Homo sapiens: one gene and its partners. The protein of the gene in region 2 purifies or fractionates together with the protein of the main gene of each other region. This does not show direct contact. Each region holds a gene or a part of one and is shown on either strand. Other genes may lie near its edges. The genes, in order: FIRRM, P2RY2 and MARCHF6.

Region 1 (3,726 bases), on a different chromosome or scaffold from region 2:
ACTAAGAGCAAAAATAATATTCTAGCTCTTCAAAATAAAAGGGGCAGGGGATATAGAACCATTTCATATCATGTATCTCAAATATATATGAAAAATAAGGGGAAAGATCTATTTCAGGAAGACAGAATTAGAATAATTATCTATAACTCAAAGCAAGGACATCAAAATCTATACCCAGCAACAAGCACAGCAATCAACGTCAAAAATTTATGCTTAGATCACACCAGTATTTAAATTTAAAATAAATGGAGGCAAGGCCAGGCAGAGTGGCTCACACCTGCAATCTCAGCACTTTGGAAGGCAGAGATGGATCACTTGAGCCCAGGAGTTTGAGACCAGCCTAGGCAACATAGTGAGACCCAGTCTCTACAAGTAATTTTTTTAAAAATTAGCCAGGCGTAGTGGTGTGTGCCTGTAGTCCCAGCTACTCAGGAGGCTGAGGTGGGAGGATTGCTTGAGCCCAGGAAGTCGAGGCTGCAGTGAGCTGTGATCGAGCCACTGTAAAACCAGCCTGGGTGACAGAGCGAGACTCTGTCTCAAAAAAAATAATAAGATAAATTTTTAAAAATGGAAAAAAAAAGGCTATCAAAGGAGTCTGAATCCAACTCTGAGCAGCTTCACAGACAGTGACAAAGATGATATCCTTCCTTGCCTGATGGGGTGGTGCCATGAAGAAAAAGAGACGCTTCAACAGTATTGATAGGTTGATGAGTTGATAACATTCTCCAGGGCATGACTTTATCTGGAAAAAGACATGAGAGAGAGAGGAGAGACTGACTAATTTAGAATCAGAATTTTTACAAGAAGAGAATATGCCAAAATATTAATAGCAGCTCTTTCTAGGGGAAAAGATTGTAGGTAATATTGACTTTTAATTTGGGGCTTTTCTTATCTTCAATGAATCTAAATTTAGAATGAGATTGAACTTCTGACATATTTAACACTGTAATTTCTATTTCTAATTATCATTTTGATGATAACTGGGTATGTCAGTCCTCCTACTCAAAGACAATTCATGGAACTTTTTAAGATCTAACTACAATAGTAGAGAGGTAGATAAAACTCTACAAGACAGAAGCTTCATTAAAAGATGTTACAGGGGCTGAGTGTGGTGGTTCACAACTGTAATCCCAGCACTTTGGGAGGCCAAGGTGGGAGGACTGCTTGAGCCCGGGAGTTTGAAACTAGCCTGGGCAACACAGCAAGAACTCCATATCCACAAAAAGTTTTAAAAATCAGCTGGGCATAGTGGCGCATGCCTGTAGTCCCAGCTACTCAGCAGGGTGAGGGAGGAGGACCATTTGCACCCAGAAGTTTGAGGCTGTAGTGAACTATGATTGCACACCACTGCATTCCAGCCTGGGTGACAGAATGAGACCCTGTCTCTAAGAAAAAAACCACCACTAACAAAAAAATTTTATAAATTCAATTTTATCAATTCCTATCATAATATAGTATCATTCCATCCTGGAATCAATTTTATCATAATGAACTAGAAGAAATCCATTCCTACAACATAATGCACTAAGAAAGCTTTTATTTAAAGGAAACTTCAGACATAAAACACATAACATAAAAATCACTCTTTATCTGCTTTGTGAAAGATATGTTAAGGATTTAGTAAAGTGTGTAAGTGATAATCCAGACCATCAGCCATGGAGACATAGATGTCAGCTGTTCAGGTTATTACACACCTCACTGGATCTGATCTACAAAATCCTTTAAAGGTAAACCAAGAAATATATGATACAATAAGACTATTAGAAAACAAAAGATGTATGGCCCACATAAGATCTTAAAGGCCAGGGAAAAAAATATGTAACAAATAGGTCATAATCATCTTATATGGAACACATAAAACACCTCAGAATTTAAAAGCAAAAAATGTTAATGTTAAGATGATGAAATCATTATAAAATAATTTTCTGTCTGTACCCATTCATAAAACATGACTTCTTTTGCCAAAAGTATCTATCAATGTCAAACTCAAGTTCCTCTCAAATCATCTTGACTTAAAAAAAAAATACAACAAAATCAAGAGTCGACTTGTCTAAGGCATATTAGAGAGACAGAAGAGAGAAACCTCTTGGCCATCAATTATAAGTCGCTCTTATTTTCTACTTTGCATTCAATTTTAAATGTAATTTCAATTAACCCAGTCTTTCCTTCCCAGAACAATTACTGAAATTACATAAAATCCTGAGAATATGAGAAAACATTCCCAGTTTCACACTAACGGTTTTTTAGTACATCCTTCTTAAAAGCATCAGCATTAATACAAGACAAAGACTGTCAAAACAATCTTGTTACTGTGATATTTCTCCCGCCGATATTCACATTCTTAAAGATTATCATATCCCCAAAGGAAGTGCATAGAAAGTGGGTGTTTTAGGCCTTGTAATTCTACGCACCAGATGAGCCACTATGGTGACATGGTGTGCACACAGTTCAGCAGTCCCATATCTGCAATATAAAAGAGAAGACAACTATGTTTATACAATTACTCAGAAACATAAGGAGATGAACTTGCATAAAGCACTAAATATTCTGATGAGGACATTAAAAACTGCCATTATTTCCATGACCAAATAATATCACAATATACAAAACTCCCTAAACAGTACTCATCTATTGGCTTGAACCAAAGAAAGAACTTGTTTCCTAATTTAATGCTGTAATATGAAATCAAAGCGTTTTGGGAATTATTTTTAAAGGATTATTGAAACAGTTTTTCTATAAGCTTACAATTATAAAATTATCTACTGTCAGTCACTACTAATAACCAATCCAAAGAACAAAAAAGCAAATATGTTGTACCGAGCAAGGAAGCACCATGCATCCATAGCTAACAAAGAGGTGATCATATTAGCACTAAGTACAGCATTCAGCAGAGCAGCATCCTAATCAAAAACAGAAAAATTAATTTATTTAAATACTAAAGTTCACAATAAGCAATAATATTATATTTCTCAAAATAAAACAAGAAAGCACTATCAGAATCCAAATAACAGATCCTCAATGGGGGAGTTCTACTTTCTAGTATCTGAAAGGACACTGCCATTCCCTCAATATTTATTGAGCACCTACTATACATTAAGTACTGTGCTGTGCTATGGAGAGTTCAACATGATTTTAAATGTAATAACTCAGTCACTAGGATCCACAAAGATTCTCTAAGTAGCCTGAAATATTCAAAACAACATAAATAACATATATGCTTATATTCCTCTTTCTGCCTTTATTCACATACAACATTTAATAGGTGCTAGATATTGTGTAATATCTGAAATGCTACTGATCTTTAAATTTCAGATATTACAAGTATCGAATTCCTAGAATTTCTTAACCTCTTTTCAAATCAAATTCTATCCTTTTTAAAATCTATATTATGTCTGAGATCTATAAGAGACCTGATACTACAAGCTATTTACTTTTCTTTTGAAACTTACTTAAGTACTACATATTTTTCCTCTTCTCACATTGTCTTTGCATACCTCCCCACCCAAAATGTTTTCTCAAATATTTTAGCCAAATATTAGATCTAAATAATACAGGAATCTGGGATTACCATTTTCTAGGACACAACTAAGTTTCACTCAAAAGGAATATACTAAGTATTCCCACATTTTCTTCTGTATATGAATCACAATTTCAATGAAGAGAAAGCAAAAGTGTAACCTTAGCTTAGCACAGTAAGTAATATGCTTACCAGTTCAGCAAACAGTG
Region 2 (3,600 bases):
TCCATTCTCCATCCTGCAGCCAGAGAGCGCTTTCTGAAATGCCGCTCTGACCATGAAACACCTCTGCTCATAAATTTCCATGGCTCCCTATTGCCTTCAGGATAAAATCTCTAGGTCTTTAGCCTGGGCACTCTAGGTCCTACAGTGTCCCAGATCACACTGTTCTGGCAAACTGTGCCACCCACTTTGATAACCAGATTCTGGTTTGCCCTTCTTTGTAGTGACATGGAGCTCCCCTGCAGCCGGGCCTTTACTGGAGAAGCTGGTGCCAGAGACAGGGGATGGGCGCCACTGCTGCTCTCTCAGTTCAGCTCAGCCCTGTGCAGGGTGCTGGCAACACAGAAATAATAAGACCCAGTTTCTGCCCTCCAGGAGCCCCTAGACCTGGGAAGAGGAAAGGAGGAGACAGACATAGATCATGACGGTTCAGGTGGGACCAGGGCTGTCAGCCCCAGGCCTGTAGGGGCCTAGAAGAGGCTCCAACCCAGCTGTAGGGATCAAGGAAGGCTTTCCAGAGGAGAGGACATCTGAGCTGGGTCCCAAGTCTGGGTAGTTCTCCAGTTGAGGAAGGTGAGAGTAGGAGGGCTTATCAGAGAGGGAGTGTAGAATATGCAACAGGCCAGGGGCAAGAAATGAGAGACTCCAGGCAGCTGCTGCAAGGTAAAGAGTCAGGCGGGAGAGGTGGCTGGAAAGGCTGGCAGGCCCCAGTTATCAAATACCTTAAGTCCCAGGCTACAGGGTTCAGGCTTGGTCCTGTGGAAGGCTTGTGCCCTAGGGAGGGGCACAGTTGGGATTCTGGTTCTGGGAGGCTCCTTCCAGGGACTGACTTCCCATCCCCAAGCTGTGAGCCTGCCCATGGGGGGACACTGGTGCTGAACATGACACACTCATCAGCTCCTCAACAGCCCTCAAATTCCTTATCATTAGTCCCTTCTTACAGACGAGGCCACTGAGGCTCAGAGAAAGGACGGCTTGCCCAGGCCACACAGTGGCCAAGACAGGATTGGAACATAGATCTCTGAGTCTCCAGAGCTCTCTTGTGGACCTGTCTGCTCAGAGAATCTTCTTCCTTCCACTTCCACCCACAGGTAATAAACTTGCCTGGGTCTCCACCCAGATCCTCAAAACTCATAATTATTTCAGCTTAGATCCAAAACAAACCAGGCAGATCAGGCTGTGGTCCTGGGAAGCTGGGGATGCCATGCTGAGAGGAACAGCAGCCATGGACCCCACAAATCCCGAGCTGGCAATTCTGGTCTCCAGCAGTCCCCAACCCTTGGGCTGCGCTCCTGGAGGACCCCAAGAGGGCCACTGGCAGCCTTCGGGTTGGGGGGTGGGGTATCGCCTTTCTCCTGACTGACCCTTTCTACCGCACCATTTGCCAGATTAAAAGCCCGGGGACAGAGGCTTAACTGTCCTTTCTGGCCACTCCCTCCTCCCCCGCCCACTCCCTGCAACTGCCCCCTCAACATTACCAATGGTAGGTGGCCACCCAGAGTGACCCTGGGGTTAGGACAGTGGTAGGGGGTCTCCAGGGGTTCGCGTCTCTGGGCACCGGCCACCGCCTCACGCCACGGGGACGCTCACATCGGAGCACACACAGACAAGTTCCGCAGGCTTGGCCAGTCGCCCCGAGGGGCGCACACACTCACCCGCTAACACGCAGACCTCCCCAGTACGCTGACGCGCACAGCCTCACTACTGGGGCGCCCGTCCACACTCACCGAGACCGACGCTCCCGTGGAGACAAAGTTCAACCACGGACCCACAGGCGCGTTCAAGCCGTCCAGTTATGCGCTACACGCCGGCTCGCAACTGTGCCCCGGGGCGACAGCCGCTCCACAGCGCCCTCCCCTGCCCCGCGCCCAGTCCGCACCTGCGCCAGTCTGGCCCGCCGCTTCCCCGGGCCTCTCCCAGCGCCTTGTTCCCTCCAGACGCCCCACCCCACCTCTCGCCACTGCGCTGCGCTTCTCCTCTCAGGGTGCCGTCGCCGCCGCTCCCGGGTGCCAGTGCCCGGGTCCCGCCGCAGCCGCAGAGACCCACGTGCCTGGGAGCCCGGCTACCCACCTCCCTGCGCTGTTCCCCAACCCCGAAGCCGGGCCAGGCAGGGGGCGGGGCGGACTTTTGACTGACCCTGGCACCGCCCTCAACCCGCCCGGGTAGACACCGCGCCACCCGCTCCGGGACGCCGCCCAGCGACAAGGCCGCGGGGTCAGCGTGTCTGTACCGGTGCTGCAACGGGAGGGTCGGGCGGCGACGCTCTCACTGCCGGGCCAGAAGGAGGCCTCCCGGCTCCCTCACGCTAGAAGGGAGCTGGTTACCAGAGGTTTTCAGAGACGCCAAAGTTTTGCCAGGTCAGCCCGGTGCCTGCGTGGCCCACTGCGGGACCTTTGCGCCCAGCCACCGCGCCACCCTACCCCTGTCCCGCCCCTGCCCCAGCCCGGCTGGCCAGGAAGGGACCTACTGGGAGATACCTGCTCGGAACCCCAGGCTAAGGACGTACCTCCCTTGCTTGAAAGTGGGGGAAGGGGGTGCCTCTCTCCATTACCGTGGTTAGGAAAGCAGGGTACTCAGGATCCCGCCTCTCCCGTGCTCCCCACTTTCCCTGCCTTAATCTTATCAGCAGCTCCCTGAACTCCCCACTCTGGCCCCTTATCTTGAGCTGCTTTACCTCTCTTCTCTGTCGTCAACCCCACTCTAATGGCCTTCCCTGGTCGGGCTACCGGCTGCATGTCTGACCCGTTCGGAGACTGTGAGCTCCCGAGGGCAGGAACCAGGTCTGCCTTCTTCCTGCTGCTGTCCTAGAGGTCCTGGGAGGTGCTCAATCCTTGAAGGTGTGAATGGATGAATGAATGAGCACCCCGCCTCTCTCTCATTTCTGGTCTAGGAATCAGGAGTGTAGGTTCCTGTCTGGCTTCAGCACTGACTCTGGGAGACCTTGACCCAGTTCCATTCCCTGGCAGGGTCTTCTTTCCTGTGAAATGGAGCCAATCGCTCCGCTGGCTGGACAAGTGCAGAGGAGGCCTCTTCCTGTAGCCAAGGAACTTGCCCCGGGCCTTCGGGGCCTTGGGCCCTCTTGGGCTCCATATCAGCTGACTGGGCCTGGCTGCCAGGAAGGGTGCTGGCTGCAGCCCCACCAGGAGCAGTAGCAGAGTGGACACACAGCCCATAGTGGCTGAGCCGCCTCTGCAGTCCTGCTGGGGCCTTTGCTTGGGAGACACAAAGGCCCCTTGTCTAGCCTCCTGCGCCTATTGTCTAAGCTGGGCCACGCACCTTCCAGGGACCTAAGTATCCTCATAGCCCGAGTTATAGGGCCTAGGCCTTCAGGTTCCAGTGTGGGGAAGACCCTTTGGGCACTGGAACTCCAGCCAACCCTCTCTTTCTCTCCCCTCTTCCAAAACTTCAAACCTTATACTGTCACTGCCATTTAGCCCAGGAGAAACAAGTTTCTTTGACGCCAAGTTGAGGACCCAGGCTCGACCTTAGCCTTCAGCGGGCAAATCTGGTTGGTGGCCTGCCCAGGGCTCTGCCCCTGCTCTGGCCCAATTCCCTTACTTTACAGCTGAGGAAACTGCATTCCTGAGACATACAGCGTTTCAG
Region 3 (3,726 bases), on a different chromosome or scaffold from region 2:
TGGCAAACAAGGCTCATCTCCACCACCTCCACAGTCATCCCAAGAATAAAGTAGTTGTCTCAACAACTTGACCTTCCCCTTTACATGTCCTTTTTTGTGGACTTCTCTCTTTGGAGATTTTTCCCAGTGATCTCTCAGCGTTGTTTTTAAGTTAAATGTATTTGACTTGTGTTCTCAGCATTCAGAGAGCAGCGGTGTAAGATTCTGCTGTTCTCCCTGGATCTTCTGACATTACTGCTGTCTGAGATTTGTATATGTGTAAATACAAGTTCCTTGATACCCTAAAACCTTGGATTAAACAGAATGTGCATTGTACATCTTTAAACAAAATGTATATTAATTTATTAAATCTAGTTGTCACTTTATTTTGGACCTGCTGTGATCTCGACAGGAAACGTGCCACAGAGCAGTAGTGCGCAGGCAAGACTTTTCAGTGACGCCTTGTGGAACGCAGTTCATGATGTCCTAGCAGCTCTCACTAAGGGAACTGTACATTCTTTCTTTCTTGGCTATTCAGACCTTACCAAGAACGTTAAAGGAAACAAGTAGAAATCAGCAGTGGAGTGTCTGTGGTAAGAAAACATGAACTTTATGCTTCACTGTTAGTTGTTTGTGGAAGTTATTTTGTATAACACCAAAGCTGTTGTACATTTCCTACTGCCTGATTTTTTTCATGTGTCTGTGTTTGTAATATTGTATAGTATCTTGTGCTAGGTGAGGAAATTATTTTTAATTTTGATAATTTAATATTCCTAGTGTGATCAGCATTGGGAGTTGGGTTTCAGTGGGGCATGTCTATACTTAGAGAAAAAAAGTCCAAATGAAGATTTTCATGAGTCAGCCCCCCCGCCCGCCCCCACCCCACACCCACATCCTCTCTTTTCCACACACAACTATCTGTTTATTTTTTGTAGCAGTGGCCGAAAGTCCTGCAAGGTCATAAATCTTTCAGAGTGACATCACCAACTGTACTGCATCTTACTGGATTTAGGACTTCTGAGATGCTTGTGAAGTATAGATGTGGTTGTGGTCTTAGATTGACAGCATTAGAGAAGACTGGTTAGAACATCTGGTCTCGCTGGTTAGTGCCTCGTTGGCTGAGGACTAGGTGTGCATTTCTCCTAGCTTTTCATCAGGAAATCCCAAAGTTTCCAAAGCTTTTTGTTTACAGAATAAAACTTCAAATAAAACCAATTCATTATTTGTCCAGAAGGAAGCTTGGCTGAGCTGGCCTTTTAACATAGGAATGTATTTCGTTGGAAACATTCTGAAAAATCTCAGAGAACTGAACCCTTACAAACTTTGTTTTCCCTCATAACCAAAGCTTCAGGTTAGAAGTTTAGAAAAATAGAATGGTTGGGTACATGATCTAAATGTTTAATGCTAAAGGTATATCGTAAGGGTAGTGTTTGTTTTTGAACGATAATTTAGAAGTTCTCATAGAAAGCGTATAACATAGGTCTTCAGAAACTATAAAAGAATTTTCATATAGTATTAAAATCCATAGACTAAAATCTGAGAATTTTTTAACATATGCAAGTCAGCCAAACATAAGCTACCAAAATAAAGAGCAATGTGTTCTGGCTGTTTTATACTTCAACAATTTTTTCCCTAAGTGGTAAGCAATTACTTTAAAACATATTTTTAAAAACATCGGTATCGGGAGCTGCGGTGGCTCCGGCCGGTTGTCCTGGCACACAAGGAGGCGAGGCTATGCGTTCGAGGCCAACCTAGGCAAAATTGGAAAAAAAAAAAAAAATCAGTATCAGAAATAATGCTTGACATAGGATTCAGTGTTATACTCTTTGGCACTTTAGAGCAGCCTTTTCTCTCATTTGAAATAAGGTCTTTGTTAGCCCTACCTTTACTCAGAAATTTAGTCCTACTATAAAAAATTAGGATTTTAAAATATAATGCTGCCTGTCATAGTGTATTTCTAAATTGCTCTCTTTGGGAGAAAAACATTATTATTGAATTGAGCATATAACTATATAACTATATAACTATATATATATATATATATATATATATATATATATATATATATATATATATATATATATTTTTTTTTTTTTTTTTTTTTTTTTTTTTTTGCCCCCGAGACAGAGTCTTACTCTGTTGCCCAGGCTGGAGTGCAGTGGCACGATCCTGGTTCACTGCACCCTCTGCCTCCCAGGTTCAAGCGATTCTCCTGCCTCAGCCTCCCAAGTAGCTGGTACTACAGGTGCGTGCCACCACACCTGGCTTATTTTAGTTATTTTAGTAGAGATAGGGTTTCACCATGTTGGCCAGGCTGGTCTCGGAACTCCTGACTGCAGGTGATCCGTCCTCCTTGGGCTCCCAAAGTGCTGGGATTATAGGTGTGAGCCCCCACGCCTGGCCAACTTGATTATATTAATTTTGGGTTTTTTGTTTTGTTTTGTTTTGTTTTTTAATTTTTCAAAGAATTTGTGGATCTTGGTATAAAGTCATTGGAACATATCTGTTTTAACAGCAAGAGATCCTAGGCAGATACTTCAAAAGGTTAAAAATTCTTAATCCTACAGAATTTTAAATGAATCTTATCAATGTTTTGTAAACAAACAATATGAATGGCCAAAAAATTGCCCTCCATTTTACTGGCAGGTAATTTATATTGTCTTACTTAAGAATTCTCCCCTAGTTTTTCAATTGTACTTTATCGTGTTGTTTTCAATGAGATAAGTATTTTCATAGGGAAAGCATTTTCCAGCATAATATTTGCTTGGGTAGCATCCGGGTTTTAGTATTTAACCAAGAGCCTTTTAAATATTGAAAACCCATAGTTCAGAAAATGTTAGTATTGCTGCCCTTCTTCACATAAATTTTTTTTTAAATTATACTATTATTTTGCTTAATTTTATATTGGGTTAAAACAACCTTCAAGAAGGTTAACTAGGAAAGAAGACCTTTTTGTTTTATTTTTACTATTTATATATAGAAGACAAATCAGCATTTGGTGATAGTTTTACATGACCAGTTATCAAACGGTCATAGTATGAAGTGTGCAGTTGTTCATTATTAGTAAATTATGTTTGATTTTTAAACTATTTAGTACTAATAGTTGAGATGAAAACTGAAGAAAAATGCCAATGTGACGTTTGTGTATAGCTAGCCTTAAAAAACTTCCCATGTTTTTAGGTGACTTTTTTCCCCCTCTTAGTACTCTGGAGAAACAATGAAGATGGGCCATCTCAATTCCAGATGTAAACAAAAAGTAATTTTTATTTCAACATTTAATGTAACTGCTATTATTGTGGATTCTTGTCTTGTGTATTTTCTTTCCCTTATTCAAGTAATATAGAATAACTTTCCTTAAAATGATTTGATCCAAGATACGTCATTTCTGTATTGGCAAAATGCCACTATTAAAGTGTAATTCTTGAATTTAGGTTGAATTGATGACTTTTTAAAACAAAACAAACACTGGACAGTTCTACATTGTATTGCGTTTGCGAATGTGCGTGAACACACGCACACGTGCAGGAGAATGTAGTGCCATAAGAACACTGGCGCTTTTTAAAACTTTCCAAGCTAGCTACTTATTTTCATTTTCAGGGTTGAGTACTCTAAGCTCTCTACTTACTGTGAGAAGTTTTCTACATTGTAAAATTAAAAGATTATATTTAAAATACTTCTTTAGGATGTTATTCAGCCATCAAAAAAAAACCCAACTAAAATGTCTTACCAGTAAAGTATTATTAAAAG

What was found.
Region 1: the proteins of P2RY2 (region 2) and FIRRM purify together in Homo sapiens (affinity purification with mass spectrometry; one large-scale study listed by BioGRID and IntAct). This does not show direct contact.
Region 3: the proteins of P2RY2 (region 2) and MARCHF6 purify together in Homo sapiens (affinity purification with mass spectrometry; one large-scale study listed by BioGRID and IntAct). This does not show direct contact.

The regions. Positions count from the first base shown.
Region 1 is NC_000001.11:169,829,433-169,833,158, reverse strand, and holds part of FIRRM (FIGNL1-interacting regulator of recombination and mitosis), read right to left. Parts: coding exon 3,710-3,726; intron 2,901-3,709; coding exon 2,818-2,900; intron 2,464-2,817; coding exon 2,412-2,463; intron 743-2,411; coding exon 653-742; intron 1-652. UniProt on the Homo sapiens protein: Regulates PLK1 kinase activity at kinetochores and promotes faithful chromosome segregation in prometaphase by bridging kinase and phosphatase activities.
Region 2 is NC_000011.10:73,216,781-73,220,380, reverse strand, and holds the start of P2RY2 (P2Y purinoceptor 2), read right to left. Parts: upstream 2,101-3,600; 5' UTR 1,949-2,100; intron 1,820-1,948; exon of another isoform or gene 1,725-1,819; intron 1-1,724. UniProt on the Homo sapiens protein: Receptor for ATP and UTP coupled to G-proteins that activate a phosphatidylinositol-calcium second messenger system. The affinity range is UTP = ATP > ATP-gamma-S >> 2-methylthio-ATP = ADP.
Region 3 is NC_000005.10:10,433,636-10,437,361, forward strand, and holds part of MARCHF6 (E3 ubiquitin-protein ligase MARCHF6), read left to right. Parts: coding exon 1-49; 3' UTR 50-3,726. UniProt on the Homo sapiens protein: Endoplasmic reticulum membrane-associated E3 ubiquitin ligase that plays a critical role in mitigating endoplasmic reticulum stress, the regulation of cholesterol and lipid homeostasis, and ferroptosis.